3 linked regions of the Homo sapiens genome follow. The protein of the gene in region 1 interacts with the protein of each later gene in a pairwise test. Each region holds a gene or a part of one and is shown in the gene's direction. Other genes may lie near its edges.

Region 1 (7,232 bases):
ATAAAAAATAATTGTATAAATATACAATTAAATAAAAATTGTATAAATATGCAATTAAATAAAAAATAATTGTATAAATATACAATTAAATAAATTACATTGAAAACAAAGATAATAAATACTCAAAACTCATCTCCATCTACATTTTACTACTATCTGTGCTCTTAAAGTTACACAAGTCTGCTGTGCCTGCATGGTGGAAATACCATACAATGACTTGCTACTGCACATTTCATGGCTTCAGTGATGTTAGACTGGCATCTGGAAATTGGCCATATTTGGAGTAAACTACAGAGATTGGCAAATGCTATGAATTAAGGCCTTCTCTTCCCTCCTAAAAGCCAGCAGTTAAACACTTATCACCACATCATATCCAAGAGACATCTGGATAAATGAATCTAAGCTCAGGAGACACATCCGGGTTGGAGATACCGCAGTGGGAGGCATAGACTTGATGCGGGCAGCTTCATGGGCTGGCGTCAGGGTCCCCACATCAAGAAGGACCCCATGATTGGTTTAATGCTCTGCTGTTGCTAACATAAAATTCTTAATTTTTGAATAAGAGGCCACATTTTCATTTTACACTGGGCTAATATAGATGATAGGGAATTTTAGGTTGTTTGGGGAGGGGGCTACTTAATTGATTGCCTTCCATTTCCACATAACAAGTATTCTGTCTTACTCACCTATGTGGTAGCACATTTTCACAGGTATTTTCCCCATCCATCCCTCAACCTGTGCATTCTCCACAAGCAGCTCACAAAATTTCCCTTGTCTATTTCCTCCCTGTATTGTTCTCTTTGGCCTTCTTTTGAAATTTGTTAACTTTTTTTTTTTTTAACTTTCATTTTAGGTTCAGGGGTACATGTGCAGATTTGTTATATAGGTAACTCGTGTCACGGAGGTTTGTTGTACAGATTATTTCATCACCCAGGTACTAAGCCTGATACTCAACAGTTATTTTTTCTGCTCCTCTCCCTCCTCCCACGCTCCACCCTCAAGTAGGCCCCAGTATCTGTTGTTCCCTTCTTTGTGTCCGTGAGTTCTCCTCATTTAACTCCTACTTATATGTGAGAACATGCGGGTATTTGGTTTTTTGTTCCTGCGTTTGAAAACTGTTAACTTTCAAAGCATTAATGTATTACATGGCTTTAATAAAAATATTTCTTCAGAACAGAAATCTCGAAGGAAAAAAAAAGTTTCTCTCCAGATTGCAATGTCCCACACATTCATCTTTCACAGTGATATGACTGGTTATGGAGCTTGTGGAATAAGACAGAACTGGGTTTGAACTCTCTCTCTCTCTTTCGTTTTCTAATCCTTAGAATGGGTTTGAATTCCTGTGTGTGTGACCTGAGGTAAATGTCTTTGATTTCTCTACCCTTCAGTTTCCTCATCTGAGGAAAGAATAATATTTACCTCTGAAGGTTATTGTGAATATTAGATAATCTACATAAAGTGCCTTACATAATGCCTGGTCCATGGTTATAGTGTTCAATTAATGGCAGTTCTTTTTATTCGTACATGATGAGTTAGGAACACCCAGTAATTTGGACATGACACATGGTAGAAAAGTCTTAGGAGGAATGAAGGAAACACTGGCAGAGATGAGCTGCAAAATTTCAACTCTTTAAACATTTTCCTGGTGCCACAATATGTATGTCCCAGACTGGACTGGACAAAGCGACTCTTTACTGGGGCTGTTACTATTCTCACAACTCCTCTCCCTGTTATTCCTCAGACAGAGCTAACAATCTACACAAATAGCACAGATGTGGGCTCTTGGACAGCCAGTCAGACATTTAGCCTTCTTGCGGCAGTGAAAAAATCCTTTCCCTGGCGTAAAGCTTGGCACAGGGTAGGCACTCAAAATTTTGTAGGTTTTCCTTTTCACCGCCGTGGCCCCAACTAGCACAGGGCCTTGCACACAGCAGGCGTCCATTTACTGAATGAGCGCATGATGAATGAGCGCATGATCATGTCACCTGTTTCTCCCTCTTCCTCCAAACCCCTGTTCTTCCGCCTCTGCCCCACGCAGCCAGCATATCCCAAGGAGCCAGGCGCAAGCCAGGCCTGGTTCACTGACTCGCTCCCCGCGCGAGGCTGCGGTTGCTATGGAAACAGCGGGAAATAACAACTCCGTTCCCCTTGGGTGAGAGAGGCCCGCAGAGGTAACAGCAGCTGGAGGAACAGCGTGAGCGGCGCGCAGCCGCCGCAGAGTTCACCACTGTGCCACCCGAGCCGCACCGCCCCGCCCCCGCGCGGCCGGCGCCCGAGCTCCCCTCCCCTCTCCAGCACGCGAGTGTCGGTAGGTACTACGGCGGAGGGCACCTCCTGGGCCCGCCTCCCCAACCAGGGCCCCGCTTGCGCGCTGCCTGCTGTCTTCACGTGATGCGCACCCGAGCTTCGCCGCCAGGCGGCGCTGATCATCGGGGAGGGGGTTAGGGGTCCTAGACACGCGAGTCTTCGCTCTGTTTCTCATTCATTCATTCATTCACTTAAATGTTATTTTTCCCTTCCTTCCTTCCCTCCCTCCTTCCGGGATGGGGTCTTGCTGTGCTGCTCAGGTTGGTCTCAAACTCCCGGGCTCAAGTGAGCCTCCTGCCTCAGTTTCCCAAAGTGCTGGGGTTACAGGCATGAGTCACGGTACCCGGATTCTCTCTTTCTCTCTCTGAATATATATAATATATATAAAATATATATATAAAAATATATAATATATATAAAATATATAAAAAATATATATAAAATATATATAATATATAAAATATATATAATATATTATATATAAAATATATATTATATAGTATATATAAATATATATACTATATAGTATATATAAATATATATAATATATAATATATAAAATATATATAATATATAATATATAAAATATATATAATATATAATATACATAAAATATATATAATATATAATATATATAAAAATATAAAATATATAATATATATAAAAAATATAAAATATATAATATATATAAAATATAAAATATATATTATATATAATATATAAAATATATAAAATATATAAAATATATAATATATAAAATATATATAATATATAAAATATATAAAATATATATAAAATATATAAAATATATAAAATATATAATATATATAAAATATATAATATATATAATATATAATATATAAAATATATAATATATAAAAATATATGATATATAATATATATGATATATAAAATATATAATATATATAAAATATAAAATATAAAATATATAATATATAAAATATATAATATATAATATATAATGTATAAAATATATAATATATAATATATAATATATAATATATAAAATATATAATATATAATATATATAATATATAATATATTATATATATAAATATATATAATACATATATATTATATATATTATATATAATATATAAATATATATATAAATATAATATATATATTTATATATAATATATAAAATATATATTTTATATATTATATATAAAAATATATAATATATAAATAAATAAATAAAATATATATAAAATAAAATATATAAAATATATATATAAAAAAAATATATATTTTATTTTCTAAGACAGGGTCTTGCTGTGTCGCCCAGGCTGGAGTGCAGTGGCAAAATCATAGGTTACTGCAGCCTCGACCTCCTGGGCTCAAACAATCCTCCCGCCTCAGCCTCCGAGATAGCTGGGTCCACAGGCGAATACCCTGCCCACCTACTTTTTTTTTTTTTTTTTTTTTTTAATTGTAGAGACCGGGTCAGGCTGGTCTCAAACTCCTTGCCTCAGGGGATCACAGGCGCGTTATAGAGACGGGGGCTTTCCCTGTGTTTCCCAGGCTGGTCTAGAACTCCTGGTCTTAGGCAGCCCTCCCGCCTGGGCCCCTCAAAGTACTGGAATTTGCAGGCGTAAGCCACCGCATCTGGCTTTGCACATTTATCTTCCAGCAAAGAAAAACCTGGGCAACTACATCCAGGAACTTAATTGCTTTAATTTGGGAGCAAGCAGGAGATTGAGGGGTAAAGGTGCAAGAAGAGAGAAAAGAAAAATTAGGCTGTTTGGAAAGGGTAGCACAGATATGATGTAAGAAATTGGGTTTCACCATATTTGTGTGTGTGTGTGTGTGTGCGTCCTCCTCTCTCCTGCCCTCACTAGGCGTGCCTGTTTGAAGGCCCCGCGCGTTTCCGGCTCCTGCTCAGAAGCTGTCCACCTTGATTCTGCCCGTAGCAGGTGAACCTGGTGTGGTGCGCGCACTGCGGGTCCTGATTGGCTGTGCACGCCACGGTGAAAAACTTGAGCGTCTACTCCGAGTCCTGCAAGCTCCTAGTGTCTCCTCTGGGTGGACGCCTAGGCGCACGGCCGTTACTTCTCTTTCACCTGTGGATTCGTCAGTTTCTCGTTCGTTTCAGGAGGCGATCCCGCGCCCTGGGTGCGGTGAGGCCGCTGGGACAGCGGAGGTGCCTCCCGACGCGAAGCAGCGAGCTGAGGCGGCGGCCAGCGGGGAAGATGAGCGGCAGCAGCGCCAGGTCCAGCCACCTGTCTCAGCCCGTCGTGAAGAGCGTGCTTGTGTACCGCAACGGGGACCCCTTCTACGCGGGGCGCCGCGTCGTCATCCATGAGAAGAAGGTGTCCAGCTTCGAAGTCTTCCTGAAGGAGGTGACCGGCGGCGTTCAGGCACCCTTTGGGGCCGTCAGGAACATCTACACCCCGCGGACTGGCCACCGAATCCGGAAGCTAGACCAGATCCAGAGCGGGGGCAATTACGTGGCTGGAGGCCAGGAAGCCTTCAAGAAACTCAAGTGAGTCGGTCTCCCCCACCGCCCACCCATTTAGGTGCCCTATAGTGTGGGGTTGATATGAAGAAATGCAGATCCCTACCCCCCCACACCTCAGTGGTTGAGGGGCTGTGACTTCTCGGTGTGATTGATGCCCCTCAAAACTCTCGTTGCAGTTGGGGGGTAGAGGTTGACACTGTGACTGGAGAAGGAATTTCACTTGGGTCAGCAGTAGGAGTAAACTTAAAATCTGTGTATAAACAACAGGAATCTTAAAGAAAATAAAAAGGTATCCTTGCAAAGGTTAGTGACCAAACTGATACTTTTGCGTTTTCTGTTCAGTTTTTTCTTTCCTTTTCCTTATTTTTTTTCCTTGGAAATCCATCCTTTTAATTTAAATAAACATTCTTAAAAATCACTTCCAAGTGTTGGACACTATATTGTCACCAGAGGAGAAAATTGCTCTGCATTTCCCGTACTGTTTAAATTATTTCAACCTTTCATTCCAAGTAGAATTGACAACACTCACTTTTGTGACCCTGCTCCCACCCCCTGCATGTTTATGCTGTTAGCATAATGCAGGAAGAGTTTACTGGCTGACTGTATTTGTCGACTGTCTGTCTCCAGCAACGTGATTAGACCTTCAAGGGCAGGGGTCCTTATTCCCAGCTCTTGAGCTCACTCATAGTGAGTGTTCAGTGAATTAAGAAACCGTCAGTTCAGGGAACAAAGATGAGCAAGGCATGATTCCTTGTCTTTAGGAGCTTTCAGTCTAACTGGACTACCTGCACACTAACAATTTTAATGCAAGCTACAAAGGGATATGTGCATAGAAAAATAAAGTTATGTGGGAATTGTGAGTTGAGAGTTGGTTGGGGTGGTCATTATAGGACAGGTAGAATTTTACATTCCATTTTTTTTTTACAGCTTTATTGAGATAGATTTCTCATGGCATGAAGTCCAACCATTTCATTGGCTTTCAGTGTATTCAGAGTTGTGCAACCATCACCACCAACTAATTGTAGTTCATTTCCACCCCTCCCGCCAAAACATTTGTACCTCCCAGTTTCCTCTGTCCCCTGTCATCTGGAAACCACTAATCTATTTTCTGAATCTATGGATTTGTCTATTCTGGACATATCATATAAATGGAATCATACGGTATATGGTCTTTATGTCTGGCTTATTTCACTTACTGTAACATTTTCAAGGTTCATCCATGTTGTATCATACATCAATACTTCATTCTTTTTATTGTTGAATAACATTCCATGATTTGGGTATATTACCTTTTATATCCATGCTTATCCATTTATCAGTTTGATGTATATTTGGGTTGTTTCACATTTTAACTATTATGAATAATGCATCTATGAATATTTGTGTACAAGTTTTCATTTCTCTTTGGTGTATACCTAAGAGTGAAATTGCTGGATCACATGGTAACTCTGTATTCCATAGTTTAATAGAACATTTTAATTGAAATTCATCTTGGGCCCCAGGATAGAAAAAAGCCTTGACCATAAATCTAAGCTTATGAATTCATAAGCATTATTGGATTCTTAATAATTAAAATTCAAATAAAGTCTTATAACTACATAGAAATATTTTTCAAAATATCACTAAAATTCTTGAATGTAATCCTTCTTCTCCTATATTTGTTTAAATTGAGTTCTAGGTATTCTATTATACTTTTTGTTACGTCAGACATTCTTTTCATGGAAAGTGAGGGATATATTTGGATTTATTTTTCCCTCCCCTGAAGCTTCTTAAGCATGCTTTGTTAAACTTCGTAAAAAAGGGCTAAATGAAATTGCATGCTTAAAGGAAACTTAAAACCAGGAGACTGAAGACTGAGTTGCTCATCAGCTCTGTGTCCTTGGGCAAGTCGCTTGACTCAGCTAATCAGTTTCTTAATACAGAAAAGGTGCATAATCATTTGTACCACACAGGGCTGTGATAAAAAGTAAATGCTATAGATGTGTGTTTTGTAAACACCAAAGTGTTACATAAATATAAGACACCTCTATGACCAGTTCCTTTTGTTACATACTTTATTTTTTATTAAATATTTCCGTCTAAAGCAATTTCGTGGAAATGAAAGTCTGGTTCAGAATCTCTGAACGGCTGAAAATTGTAGACTCACTTTTATAGTTCATGTTCTTTTGTTTATTTGATCCTACCAACTCACAAGATTAAAAAAAAAAGGTACAGTTCCACACCAAATAAAAAAGTGTACTCAAGTCTCTCTAAGAGATTTGCATGTTATTTTTGCTTTCAGTTCATACACAAAAAACTGAATTTGTTATAACAGTGTCCATGGTTAGGTTTCCATGCTGACAGATGACTATTTTATTTGTGTTAAAGAAGTAGTATCTACGGTTATAATGATAGAAGCCAAGAATACTTGAATGTTGAATATATTTGAAACTTAGCACTTATA
Region 2 (6,659 bases), on another chromosome or scaffold:
GCAATAGAGAAAGAGTCATTCACACAGAGCTGGCTGTGCCTGAGACCGGAGTTTTATTATTACTCAGATCAGTCTCCCTGAGCATTTGGGGAGCAGAGTTTTTAAGGGCAACTTGGTGGGTGGGGAGAAGCCAGTGATCCAGGAGTGCTGATTGGTCAGGGATGAAATCACAAGGAGTCGAAGCCATCTTCTTGCACTGAGTCAGTTCCTGGGTGGGGGCCACAAGATCAGATGAGCCAGTTTATTGATCTGGGTGGTGCTACCTGATCCATCAAGTGCAGGGAGGGTCAGAATCTTGTAAATGACCTCTGGCTACATGACTCCTAAACTGTAATTTCTAATCTTGTGGCTAATGTTAGTCTAGTCCCCAGGCAAGAAGGTGGTCTGCTTTGGGAAAGGGTTGTTACTGTCTTTGTTTAAACTATAAACTACCAACTAAATTTCTCCCAAAGTTAGTTCAGCCAACACCCAGGAATGAACAAGGACAGCTTGGAGATTAGAAGCAAGGTGGAGTGGGCTAAGTTAGATCTCTCACTGTCTCAGTCATAACTTTGCAAAGGCGGTTTCAAGCCCAGCTGCCAACCAGAGGAACTCACTCAACACGTGAGCAGCAGGCAGAAGCAAGAGCCTTCCCCTGAGAAATAGGAAGGAAATCCTAGCCTCGCCCCCGCAACCACTGACTGAACGGGACCCCTCTTGGCCAAGGGGGTGTCGACAAAAAGTGTCAAACTCTGTAAAATATTTTAAAAGATTCTGAGCCGAACATGACTGACAAATGGCCCGTGACACAGCCCTCAGGAGGTCCTGAGAGCAGGTGCCCAAGAGGTTTGGGGTGCAGCTTGGTTTTATATATTTTAGGGAGACATGAGACTTTAATCAAATACATTTAAGAAATACTAAGGCCTAAACTCTGTTGTTGTTTTTTTTAATCTTGCTCAAATTCCTATCTAAGGGGTCTGCGCATGCCCTACAAATCATAAACTCTCAACAGACAGGTTTTGTTTAGCCCTAAATATTGTGACTTACTTTCCAACCCGACTCTGGCATAACATTATGAGACAAGGAAGAAAATCAAAATACTTTACCCCAAAACATGTTTCTTTGCTGTATTTTGAAATGGCCCTGCAGAGCGTCCTTTGTGGGGGAAAATTTGGATCTGCAAAGAATCTCTATTAACATAGCTAGATCTTTTTCTTCCAGACCCTCCCAGTCCTAAAGAGATTAACTAAGGTCTGAATAGGAAACATTTGTCATCTATTGTCTCTAAGGGCAGCCACTATCAGACTTCAAAAGAACTTTGGTCTCCACAATCTTTATCTTAACTTGAACTTTCCCTTCCTATCCATCCCAGGTCTTTAGACAAACTCAACCAACCGTGAACCAGAAAATGTTTAAATTTACCTATAGCCTGGAACCCCCTCACCCCCCATCCCCCACCACCCGCTTTGAGTTGTCCCGCCTTTCTGGACCAAACCAATGTAATTTTGAAATGTATTTGATTGATGTCTCCTGCCTCCCTAAAATGTGTAAAACCAAGCTGTACCATGACCACCTTGGGCCCATGTTCTCAGGACCTCCTGAGGGTTGTGTCTCAGGCCATGGTCACTCATATTGGGCCCAGAATAAATCTCTCTTCAAATATTTTACAGAGTTTGACTCTTTTTGTCGACATTACATTGGTTTGGTCCAGAAAAGTGGGACAACTTGAAGGGTGGGGAGTGCTTCCAGGCTATAGGTAGATGTAAAAATTTTCCGGTTGACAGTTGGTTGAGCTTGTCTAAAGACCTGGGATCAACAGAAAGGAATGTCTGGGTTAGGATAAAGGATCATGGAGACCCAGGTTGTTATTTGCAGAGGAAGCCTTTAGGTAGCAGGCTTCAGAGAGAAGAGGTTGTGAGACGTTTGTTATCGGACTTAAAGTCTGTGTGGATGTTAATGCCAGAGAGGTAGAATGAGGCATGTCTGACCCCCACTGCCCATCATAGTGTCTCAGGTTAAATTTTAAAACAGCCCTGGCTGAGGAGGAAGTCCATTCAGATGGTCGGGGAGGAGGTCTTAGAATGTTATGTTTGGTTAACCGGGAAACCTTGGAAGCTGAGTTCCTGGCTACGGGGGGATGGGAAGCTGGACTTGCGCCCTTCTCCTACTCCCTGGCCAGCCATGACCCAGCTCCCTCCCCTCAGGGAAAACAGAAACCAATTCTGTGGAGACTGCACTGAGGAGATCAGTGTACCCCTGACATTGCCCCCTCCTTCTTGATAGGAGATCCACCACGGAGAGGCCCTGGCCATTCTACGGAAGAGGCGCAAGGAAGTCTTCTGAGTCCGCTGCTTCACCTTTTGACATCAGAGGGCCAAAAGCTCCACCCTCAGATCAGGCTAACACCTCTGGTTTTTGCACATAGAGAGGGGGTGAAGCTGGATTGCGCATATGCCTGGTTTTGGGTCTGCAGTTGGTTCCTGCTGGTGGGTTCGTGGTCTCGCTGACTTCAAGAATGCACCCATGGACTTTCACGGACCTTCGCAGTGAGTGTTACAGCTCTTAAAGATGGCACAGACCCAAAGAGTCAGTGGCAGCAAGGTTTATTGTTTATTCGCGAAAGGACAAAGCTTCCACAGCGTGGAAGTAGACCCGAGTGGGTTGCCGCTGCTGGCTGTGTGGCCAGCTTTTATTCCCCTATTGGCCCCGCCCATGTTCCGTTTCTGTCCTATCAGAGTGCCTTTTTTTCAATCCTCCCTGCGATTGGCTACTTTCAGAATCCTGTGCAGATTGGTGTGTTTTACAATCCTCTTGCAAGACAGGAAAGTTCCTGATTGGTGCATTTTACAATCCTCTTGTAAGACAGAAAAGTTCCCCAAGTCCCCACGGGACCCAAGAAGTCCAGCTGGCCTCATGTCTCAGTTTCTCCTCTTATCAATATTCATGTCCCTCCCACAGCTTATTGAATATGCATATTCAGCCACCCCCACTCAGTGTAGATCTCTGCTTTATTCTTCCCTCCCTCCAAGTGTCTGTTTCCAGCTTCCTACCAGAGGCTGCGCCTCCCAACCAGTCAGAACAGCCACACTCAGCCCGCAGCACTTTATGAGAAGTAAAGCGCTCCTTTCCAAATTGACGACCTCGTCCTTCTTCAGTTAACACCTCCCTCTCTCAATGACGATGATGGAGCATGTCCAGGTGTTGGTGACACAGCTACATGGCTGCGTGTGGGATAAAGTCGCTGCCCCTTCAGAACTCACACCCCCCTGGAGTGGGACACACACCTCTAAGAACAAACAAGGATGAGAGCAGAGCCAGCTTGGCATCGTGGGAATCAATAAATGAAACAGAAAGTGCAAGGTGGTGGGGGTAGCTATCTCGGGACGGGGTGTCAGAGGTGGATCTGAGTTGGGCAGACAGGAGGGACGCAGTCCAGGGCGGTCCTGGGTGAGTCTGTTCCATGTAAGGAACTGCCAGCACACAGGTCGTAAGGAGGAGTGCGGTGTGGCCCCGGCACCAATCCAGGGCTGGATGAAGAATGATTGAGGCAGTCTGAAGATGACACCAAGTCATTCTCCTCCCACGGAGAGGTGGACTTTCTCTTCTCTCTGCAATCTGGGCTGGCCTCAGTGACTTGAGGAGGGAGAAATACTCTAGGATTCCTAGGCTGGGTCATAAGGCACCTTCTAGCCTCTGCTCGAGTGACCTCCTAGGAAGTACAGCTGCCCTGAGCCCACCATGCTGTGAGGAAGCCCAAGCCAGCCGTGGGAAGAGGCCGTGAGGTGGGGGAGGGGAGGGAGATCTGTCCGGCCTCACCTGTTGTAGCCATCCCATAGGTGTGTGAACACAGCATCTTGGACAAGCCAGCCCCAGCTGACATAATTTACAGAAAAACCAAGGAACCCTGCAGACAGCCGGAACTGAGGTCCCAAAATACAGCCCAGCCAAGCCATGCTGCCATCGTTAGCCATTGGTACCTTCCCAATTGAGACCCCACAAATCATGCGGCCTGTGCCACCATCCAGTGCCGGATCTGAACTACTGATCCACTGAGCTTTGGGCTGATTGGTTCTGCAACGATGGGTGGCCAAGGCCACGGTCAAATCCAGCTGGAGAGGTGGATGGGGCCAGTGTCAGGGGTTTGGATTTCACCCCAAGTCAGCTGAGGCACACTGGAATGTCGTAAGCCTGCACATCCACTCATCACACATTTTAACCGCATCTGAGTGTGGACCGTACCGATGGGTTCCTGCACCTGCAGCCTCCACACCATTGCTGGTGCCCTGCCTCCTAGCTGGAGTATCCTTCCTGTCTCTTGGCTGCTCTTTGTACCCATCATGGTCCCCCTACCACCCTCCAAGTTCTGCTCCAAGCTTTGTTTTCCTCCAAGAGAAGAACCTGTCCAGACAATAGTTTCAAAGCAGCGGGAAGCTCTGCTCACGTGTCCCCAAGGACCATGCTGTGTGAAATTCCCTTCTGTAATCACAGAGCCCATTGCCCTGGCCTATTCCTGGTCCAGGAATAGGGAGGAGGTAGACAGAGGATGCCTCCTTCCCCACTGCTGAGAACCCTGCCATCCTCAGCCACAGTTGCCACAGAGAAGATACCACATCCCTGGGGGAATCAGCAGGAATCAGGTAGAGAGTGGCACTGCTCTGGGGAGGGAGGGCGTCTCACAGCATCAAACGTCAAAAACCCACAACATTGACCCAGTCCTGCCAAGACGGAACCCTGCATGAGCATGGGGGATGGGGAGTTGGGGTGTTGCAAAAGACGCAATACATGAATGATCTCAGGTAATTCTCAGGCAACCCCCGGAGGCTGGTGTTGCTAGCACCCCTCTGCAGGAGAAGAAGCTGGGGCTCGGGAGCTGACTGGATCTGCTCAAAGGCCCAGGAAGAATAAGAGTTAGGAACTGGGACAGACCTTGAGGAAGCTGCACTTCCTCCTGAGGTGAGCCAGCGTTGGAGCTGTTTTTCCTTTCAGTATGAATTCCACAAGGAAATCATCTCAGGAGGAAGGGCTCATACTTGGATCCAGAAAATATCAACATAGCCAAAGAAAAACAATCAAGACATACCTCCAGGAGCTGTGTAACAGCAACCGGAAAGAGAAACAATGGTGTGTTCCTATGTGGGATATAAAGAGCCGGGGCTCAGGGGGCTCCACACCTGCACCTCCTTCTCACCTGCTCCTCTACCTGCTCCACCCTCAATCCACCAGAACCATGGGCTGCTGTGGCTGCTCCGGAGGCTGTGGCTCCAGCTGTGGAGGCTGTGACTCCAGCTGTGGGAGCTGTGGCTCTGGCTGCAGGGGCTGTGGCCCCAGCTGCTGTGCACCCGTCTACTGCTGCAAGCCCGTGTGCTGCTGTGTTCCAGCCTGTTCCTGCTCTAGCTGTGGCAAGCGGGGCTGTGGCTCCTGTGGGGGCTCCAAGGGAGGCTGTGGTTCTTGTGGCTGCTCCCAGTGCAGTTGCTGCAAGCCCTGCTGTTGCTCTTCAGGCTGTGGGTCATCCTGCTGCCAGTGCAGCTGCTGCAAGCCCTACTGCTCCCAGTGCAGCTGCTGTAAGCCCTGTTGCTCCTCCTCGGGTCGTGGGTCATCCTGCTGCCAATCCAGCTGCTGCAAGCCCTGCTGCTCATCCTCAGGCTGTGGGTCATCCTGCTGCCAGTCCAGCTGCTGCAAGCCCTGCTGCTCCCAGTCCAGATGCTGTGTCCCTGTGTGCTACCAGTGCAAGATCTGAGGCTCTAGTGGGAAACCTCAGGTAGCTCCTGAAGATCTGTGCTTTCCAACAAGTGACTACCCTTGAAGCACATCCCCTTCTGGATCTGAAAAGAGCCCTTGGCTCAGGGCGTCTTTTTCCAGCCCCTGAGGAAATGGAATGAACCACTCCCTGCCCATTCCCTATAAGAATATCCCAAGACCCAGGCAATTTTGCCCCTCTTTCCCACATGCCCCCATATGTCTGAGCCAAACTGCACTGGGGGCTGCCCTCATGCCAAGCAAGAGCCTGGAATTCCCCTTCTTGATAATTCCATGGGAGACAGCAAACCCTTCTTTCCTTTGCCTGCCAGGAGCTTCACGACATTTGCAGATGGATGTCCTGCAACCCAAATGATCACATGTATCTATGGAAATCCAAAATGCATCTGGGTGCAGCACTAAATAAATTCTCCATCCCTCAGCCTTGGTCTCACTGACTCTTTTCTTCCAGCCTCTGTCTCATTGGCAAACTGGCCACATGTCCTTCCCCTCCTCCCTGATAGCTTATTGCTCCCACTGCTGTAACAGTGTGCCAGGCCCAGCTCCCATTCCAGAAACAGTTGTTGAACTGATTAATGAAGGAACCACTAGCAGTATGTATGAATGAATGAAGACGAGGAATGAATGAGTGAATGAGTGAGTATCTCTCATTAGTACACAGGGAGTCCCAGCTGTATCTCAGTGGGATTCAGTCTGTCTTGGTTGGAATTTGGACTCCTACTTCTTCCCCATGGGAGGATATGTTTGGGAGAGAAGGAGAACTTTGCCCTCAGTGCCTAGGAAGGGATGTAATGGGTGCTCTCTGGGTCCAGCCAGTCCCCAGTTTGTGGGTCAAGCCAGGAGATGGGGAAGCGAGACTAGAATGAGCTGTGTCCCTGAGATGCTCTGTAGGACAACACTGGAAACTGTGCTGCTTCAAGGAT
Region 3 (7,024 bases), on another chromosome or scaffold:
CCACCCCAGCCCCTCTGAATTAACCCATAGTGGGCCTTTACCCAGTTACTAGCACCTAGAGGAGCCCTGCTTTTGCAGGATGTCTTGACACAGTATTTATCATGTCCTCTTTCTGTTACACCTGTGGTGCCAGAGAGGCAGGAGGTTAAGCAGGGCGCTCGCTCAGCTTTCCAGCAGAAAGAGATGCTCCCCAGGGTCCGGGGGCAGGACTCTGGCTCGGGAGACCCTGACTGTGGTCTAGCCGTTGCCTCCCCCTAGTGATAAGGGGAGACGGCAAGATCCCATGGGCCGTGAAGGAGCAGAGGGGCCGCTAATGGGGTCCTGGGAGGGTTCTTTTGTCCTTGGGTAGAGGGAGCTTCAGGGGCCCGGGTGGGTAGGTGTGGAGAGGACGTGTGAAGCTAGCCAGCCCGACATCGTTCTGAGAGAATCATACCGTGTTTAGATCTTCAGGATAATGGTTCCCTGAATAGCCACTAAGGGATGCTTCAGCCCTGTGCAGTGCTTCCCTCACGTTTCAAAAAGGCCAGTATTTTGGAAAGATAACCTTTTTTCAATATAGTCTGCATATTATCAGAAAGCATGGGTGAGTACCTGCAAGGAGTACCATGTGGACCCCTGCGAGGGGTACCGTGGGGGCCCCTGCGAGGGGTACTGTGTGGACCCCTGTGAGGAGTATCATGGGGGCCCCTGCGAGGGGTACCGTGCGGGCCCCCGCGAGGAGTATCGAGGAGTACCGTGTGGACCCCTGCCTTCTGCAGTGAGATCTCGGGACGTTTGCGGGAGACTCCGCTGCAGCCACCGCGGTGCCGTCAGAGAGGCCTCCTTGGTAGAGGTGGGTGCGCTGTGCCGTGTCCAGGCTGCTCTGACTCCTTGTCCTGCTTCTGGAGGTGCTGGTTGGCCATGGAGTCCAGCTGGAGGCGGCCTGGCCCCTCCCTTCCTCCCTGAGAGGCCTGTTCCTGTCCAGGTCCCCTCACTCTTCACATCGTTGATAATTCCTGCCGAATCGGTGACTTCATTAGGGATGGCAGAGGGTAGTTTCTGAACTTTATCACTTCTTCGGTGTTTATTAACTGGGATTGTTTGTAAAGATTAGCTTTCCCCATCAACCGGTGTCGGCTGGCTGTCCTGAAACACAATTCGTGAAAGAAAGGCAAGTGAGATGCTTTTCCCTCATCTTCCCGTACCTCAAGGAGAGAGTTGCTTTTCTTTGTAGATGTGTGTGGGCTTTCTCTCCCCTGAGTGTTGTGAAGAGCCCGTGGATTTTCCTGCATCCTGTGTGTCTGAGCCAGTGGCACTTACCCGTCTCCGCTGGCTCTGGTGGGCTGCTCCTGGGAGGGCGTCCGTTCCTGCTGACTGCACCTGAGCCAGCGGGGAACGCACTCACCGCCTCCTCACGAGTCCTTTCTCTCTGGGTTCCTGTGAACCTTTGCGCTGGATTTTTTAGGCCGGGTTGTGAGTCTGTACAGGTGTGGAATTGCTGTGCTTGCCTGGAAATCACATCTTTTCACTGTGTGGGGACCCACGGGCCTCTTGGAAGATAAAGGCCTCTTGCCTTTGATTATTTTGTCTGATACTGGCATGGCCACCCCAGCTGTCTTTTAGAGAGTATTCACCTAGTACTTTTTCCTTCTATGATTTTACATTTTTCTGAAAACTTTTGTTTAAGACACGTGCACCATCGATAGCACGTAGCTGGATTTTTAAAAAGTCAAATCTAAGAAGACTAAGTCTTTTGATGGGAATGCGCTAGTTTCATCTTTCTAGTTAAGAGATGCCTAGATGGATACACAGATTTACAGATTTTTTACATGTTTTCTTTGGTGCTTTTATTTGTCCTACATTTTCTTATTTTTTTTCTCTCATTGCCTTTTGAATTTATTAAATGGAGTTTTAAAAAATTCAGTTGTTTTATCTCAAGTACATACACACTGTGCTGGGAAAGTACAGGGGCTCCCCTGGAAATGGTAACATGCACTTATCAGCTTCTGCCATGAGGGAGTCTCTGAGTGAACTCTGGCTCCGGAGGCTGCCCGGCTAAAGAATAAATAAAGAAGAAGTTAATCATTGTCTGTGCCACCTCCGGATCCACGCGGAGACCTCGGCCGCCCCGTCCTGGCGCGGGTGCTGCTGTGCCTTGTGTGGGTGCTACCTCCCCTTGGGGCTCCCGCAGGAATGTGTTACTTCTCTCGAGTCAGCGCTTGTTTAGATTTCCTTCTGTGTTTCTCTTTTCTTATCCCTTCTGGTGTCTCGGGCCTTCCATTTGGGGTCACTTTCCTTTAGCTTCAGGTTCATCTAGAATTTTCCTTGCTGGCAAACTTGATTTTTGCTTGTACATGCCTTTTCTCTGTGTCCTGACAGCTATTTTTGTGTGTGTGGAACTCCAGGTGGGCGGTACTCCAGGTGGACAGTACTCCCGGTGGACGGTCACTTGTCCTCAGTGCCTCGAAGGTGGGACCCCGCCCTCTCCTGGCTCCTGGAGTGGCTGCTGAGCAGCCCGGGAGTGGATGTCCCTTCCTCCGGCTTTCCTTCGTTTTTGGCCCTCTGTTTGCTGCCTTCTGAATACGCTGCTTCTGGCCTGCCTCCCAGTTCACTTGAGGTCTTTTTTTTTTTTTTTTTTTTTACATGGAGGCTCGCTCTGTAGCCCAGGCTGGAGTGCAGTGGCACAATCTCAACTCACTGCAACCTCTTCCTCCCAGGTTCAAGCGATTTTCCTGCCTCAGACTCCCGAGTAGCTGGGATTACAGGCGTCCACCACCACGCCCAGCTAATTTTTGTATTTTTAGTAGAGATGGGGTTTCACCATGTTGGCCAGGCTGTTCTCGAACTCCTGGTCTCAAGTGATCCGCCCACCTCAGCCTCCCAAAGTTTTGGGATTACAGGCGTGAGCCACTGCACCCGGCCCTAACCTCTGTTCATCTGGGCCTCTAACACTGTCCCTTGACCTGCCCGACAGGCCCCTGGTTAGGCCTGCTGTGCAAGTGTTTCCTGTCCCTGAGTCACTGTCTCCAGATCCTGCGGGCCCTGCCCTGGCACCGTGCTGGTGAGGCCTGCCTTGCTGCCCTGTGGGAAGTGCAGCGTGCCCCTGCCACCCGGCCTTGCCCTGTTTCTTTGCACAGCGCCTCCTGCCGTTAGCATACAGCATAACTCATGATGCTTCCCGTTTGTCTTCTTCCACTCACGTGTAAGCATCCCAGGAGCAGGGGTGCCCCAGCACCTCACCATGGAAGCCTCAGGCACACAGTGACACGCAGAGGCTGCCGCAGCGCGCGCCCTGTGCCCGGCGCCCAGGGCCTGCCACGTCACATGCCGTCCCTCTCTGGATCTCTGTCCGCCCTTGGCCTGCTGCTTGACTGGCTTTTGTTTCATCTGAATGAGAAGGGGTTTTCCGCCTCTGCCTTGCTTGACCGTCCCAGCACTTAGGATGCAAGGCTGCCTGCAGTGGAGTTCCTGGCAGAGACCCCATTTAAAGTCGCTTGTTCTGTAGTCAGCTTTTATAATCTATGCTTATTCTCATTCTGTCCTGTACTCTTCCCTTTCACCGCTCTTCAGCTTACACGGGTTCGTTTCAATACTGTCATCTCCCAGCTTCCCTTACACAAATTCTAGTGTTTGCTTTGAGACTTTAGCAGAGCCAGGGAACCTCCCGGCATGTTGGCTTTGAAGCGCCTGTTGTGTTTTGTATAATTAAAGGAAGAGGGGAGGGGGTGATAGGAAGAGGGAAGGAAAGCCCTGTCTGAGGAAGGCCCCGGAAGGGGAGACAAGGCACGGCGAATGAGTGCTCAGCGAGGGCTCCTGGGAGGGGGCTGCTGAGCGGCCGTGGGAGGAGGATGTGGGAACTGGGGACAAAGTCACCACTGCCCGTCCACACTGGCGTGGGAGCTGCCTTGCCAAGAGCAGTTGCATGAAATGCCACTTATTTGCTCAAGGGTTGTTTATTGAACATGCCAGTGCCAGGAGACTGGCGTGGAGCATGAGGCCGAGGCTGGCTGGAGTGGGTTTTGGGGAGTGTCAGGAGGCTGGTGTGGAGCGTGAGGCCGAGGCTGGCTGGAGTGCCAGGGGCTGCAGGGTCAGGTACTGGTCCAGCTTTTGGATGCTGGTGCTGTGAAGGGTGGTGGGTGAGGGAGCCAGCAGCTGAGTGGGCATGGGGAATTGCAGTTTTCCTTCTAGCCTTATTTTGGAAAATGCTAAACTTACAGGGCAATGGCAGTGGCCACCAGTGAGTGTCGGTGAGTCCTTCACCTCCACGGGGCTCCCCTCTTGGCCGTGAGTGTGCAGGCCTGGGGCATGTGCAGGCTGGCACTTCAGTCTCTGAAACCCTGCGCACTGAGGGGTCAGTCAGCTGGGCAGAGGGACCGCCAGGGCCACCCAGGGTCTGTCCTGACTGCCCACGGCCCTGTGTCTCAGCCCTGGTGCGCGTTCCCGCCCTCTTGCACGCCCGGATCTGGATGTGAATCACACAGGTGTGCGGGCATCGGGTGGATGGGCCATTTCTCCTGGGCCAGACTGAGCTCTGACCTGGGTGTGAACCTAGCAGCAGACATCCCCTGTAGGACAGTGGCCTGGAGCAGGCCCCTTGCAGGGCCTTCAAGGCAGGGCCAGCCCCTCAGACACAGCAGGGAGGCTGGTGATGACCTGGGCTCCAGGTTCTCAGCTTCATCTGGACCAACTGTGCTGTTCTATGTGAGTCCTGGGGCCCTGACCGAGTCTGGGGCTCCCTTCCTAGCAGACACTCAGACCTCGCCCAAGAGGCTTTGAGACTGACTTCCGCCCATATCCCTAGATGTTCCTACTACGGGGGATTTATTTCTCTCTGTTTCATTAGCTTCCTCTGTCCCTTTAGCCACGAGCCCAGCCCAGGTCTTCCTGCTGTGGGTCCCAGCTCTGAAAGTCACGTTGAATCATGGCCATGTTAGGAACTGGAGAAACCTAGGGCTCAGGGTACAGAGTTTCACTAGTTGGGCTTCTGTGTTGGGGCCTCCGTGGGCTGGCTTTGTGGCTTCAGGAGTCCTTGACGCTTGTTCTCAATGTGGGGGTGATATTGACCCTGAGAGGGCACAAGGGGTTCTTGGGGGAGGAAACTTCTGGGGTTTGGCGGCCGTGTGTGCCTCCCCAGCACAGCTCCTGGATTTCTTGCTCCTTAGTATTTCATTGTCCCTGGGTTTTCTGGGTGTCCCAGCACATGGATACGGAGTTCTCGGAAGCCCGCGACACATGTGCGATCTCAGACCTGCTGTGAGGTGGGTGGGGAGGGTGGGCAGGCGCCTGCGGATGCCGTTTGTGTGGGATCCTCAGTGCTGGTGTGAGACTCTGGCTTGGAGAATTGAATGAGAATCGTCGACATTTTGTGATTTAATTCCACAGAACGTATTTAGCCCATCGCTAATGATGTCAGTTTGCTGAAAGAATACCAGCCAGCCAGTTAAAAGGTACTTTCTCACATCAAGCAAAAGCTTCAGTTCACTAAGGATATTTTTTATTGTGTTTATATAAGTTGTTTATTTCTACGTGTGATTTGATACATTACAATTTATGTAAATAAATTACACTCAGCGCTGCTCAGCGCATAGTCATGAAGTGCTAGAAGCATTTTAGTTTTTAATTGAACTTCGTTCGACTTAGTTATGCTAACCTGGCGTTAGCGCTGAGACTCGTTGAGCCTTGCTTGCAGTGTTTACATGCCAAGTGCAGGTGCATGCGTGGCACACAGACACAAACAGCACCTCCACAGCCTCGCAGCGTCATGGGGTGGGAACGGTGAGAAGGTTTAAAAAGGCTCCGCAGGGGGCCAGTCATGGAAGTGGCCAGGAAACCCTGGTCTCCTGCCGCCTGCGTGTGGCCAGCCGTGCTTCAGGGGCGACTGTGGTGCGGCTCCTTGGGGTGATGTCTCCTGGCAGGCGTGAGGCCAGGACTGCATGTGTTCAGGACTCCACGTCCTGGGCTGAGCTGGGCTCTTCCGGGGCTCTGTCAAGGCAGAAAGTGTGGCCCAAGGAAGCAGCGGCACTCTCAGTCGGAAACGTATTCCTAACAGGTGTCGGGCAGAAAGTGTGGCCCAAGGAAGCAGCGGCTCTCTCCGTTGGAGACGTGTCACCAACAGGAATATTCACAGTGGGTGTTTAATTTGTGTGCTTAAAAAGAAAAATTAGCTTTGGATTGACTACACACATTGCATGACAAAAAAGAAGAATTAAGACTTTATTTCTGTGCCAAAACTAAAACTTAGACTTGAAGAGAAATTGTTTTAAATAGAAGTGAATGTTGGAGACCTCTTTTCTTTCGTGTGGAAAGGTACGCTGCAGTGGTTTAGAGCTCTGGCGTCAGTGAGGGAGGAATGGTCGTCAGTCACAGGCTTGCGTCGTGATCCTCTGAGAGCGGCACATGGGGGAGGAGAATCAGCAATTCCAAGAAATTTGAAGTTACATTTTAAAACTATATTTAAAACAGACTAATATTTATAAAAGTAGCTTTTATTTTCAGAGAAGATAAAATGCTGTGAGCTCTGTGGGATGAGAGCCCTACCCTGTCCTTTTTATTTTAAAAGTAATTCACGAATGTTTTTAAAAAGTTTCTAAAAATAACTAGCAGGATATAAAAGTATAAATAAATTGAAATAGAATCTTCCCTGCCTGTTTCCCTCGAGTTCCATTCCTGAATGCTCCTCCAGAGTTGGTGTCGACAGAGGCCTCCTTATGGCTCCCTGCAGCAGGTCGTGCCGCACCTCCGCCTCCGCCTCCGTCCCCCGAGTCTCCATGTGTTCGCGGCAGGGACCGCCGGCTCCTGGTGAGGCCGCGTGGCGATGCGCTGGGTGGATGTGCCTGGCTGGTGGACGGGGCGTTTTGACGGCACAGGTGACGCAGCCTCAGGCATCCTGTGCTCACGTGCCCGAGTGAGCATTGACAGGGGACTGGCTCCTGAAGTGGAATTGTTGGCCTTCACACGGGCATTTAGACTTGTTAGTGTTGAACTCAGTATGTGCATCTTGTACATGGAAGCAAAATTCTAGAAAAATATCCATTATGTATCGGGA

The links. Proteins that work in one complex are often made in the same cells at the same time.
Region 2: the proteins of DCDC2 (region 1) and KRTAP5-9 interact in binary tests that used the Homo sapiens proteins (3 or more experiments, as listed by UniProt).
Region 3: the proteins of DCDC2 (region 1) and TOLLIP interact in binary tests that used the Homo sapiens proteins (3 or more experiments, as listed by UniProt).

The regions. Positions count from the first base shown.
Region 1 is NC_000006.12:24,355,039-24,362,270, reverse strand, and holds the start of DCDC2 (doublecortin domain-containing protein 2), read left to right. Parts: upstream 1-4,211; 5' UTR 4,212-4,520; coding exon 4,521-4,813; exon of another isoform or gene 4,814-5,368; intron 5,369-7,232. UniProt on the Homo sapiens protein: Protein that plays a role in the inhibition of canonical Wnt signaling pathway. May be involved in neuronal migration during development of the cerebral neocortex. Involved in the control of ciliogenesis and ciliary length.
Region 2 is NC_000011.10:71,543,452-71,550,110, forward strand, and holds KRTAP5-9 (keratin-associated protein 5-9), read left to right. Parts: upstream 1-4,968; 5' UTR 4,969-5,206; coding exon 5,207-5,716; 3' UTR 5,717-6,157; downstream 6,158-6,659.
Region 3 is NC_000011.10:1,299,631-1,306,654, reverse strand, and holds part of TOLLIP (toll-interacting protein), read left to right. Parts: intron 1-3,864; exon of another isoform or gene 3,865-4,071; intron 4,072-6,642; exon of another isoform or gene 6,643-6,777; intron 6,778-7,024. UniProt on the Homo sapiens protein: Component of the signaling pathway of IL-1 and Toll-like receptors. Inhibits cell activation by microbial products. Recruits IRAK1 to the IL-1 receptor complex. Inhibits IRAK1 phosphorylation and kinase activity.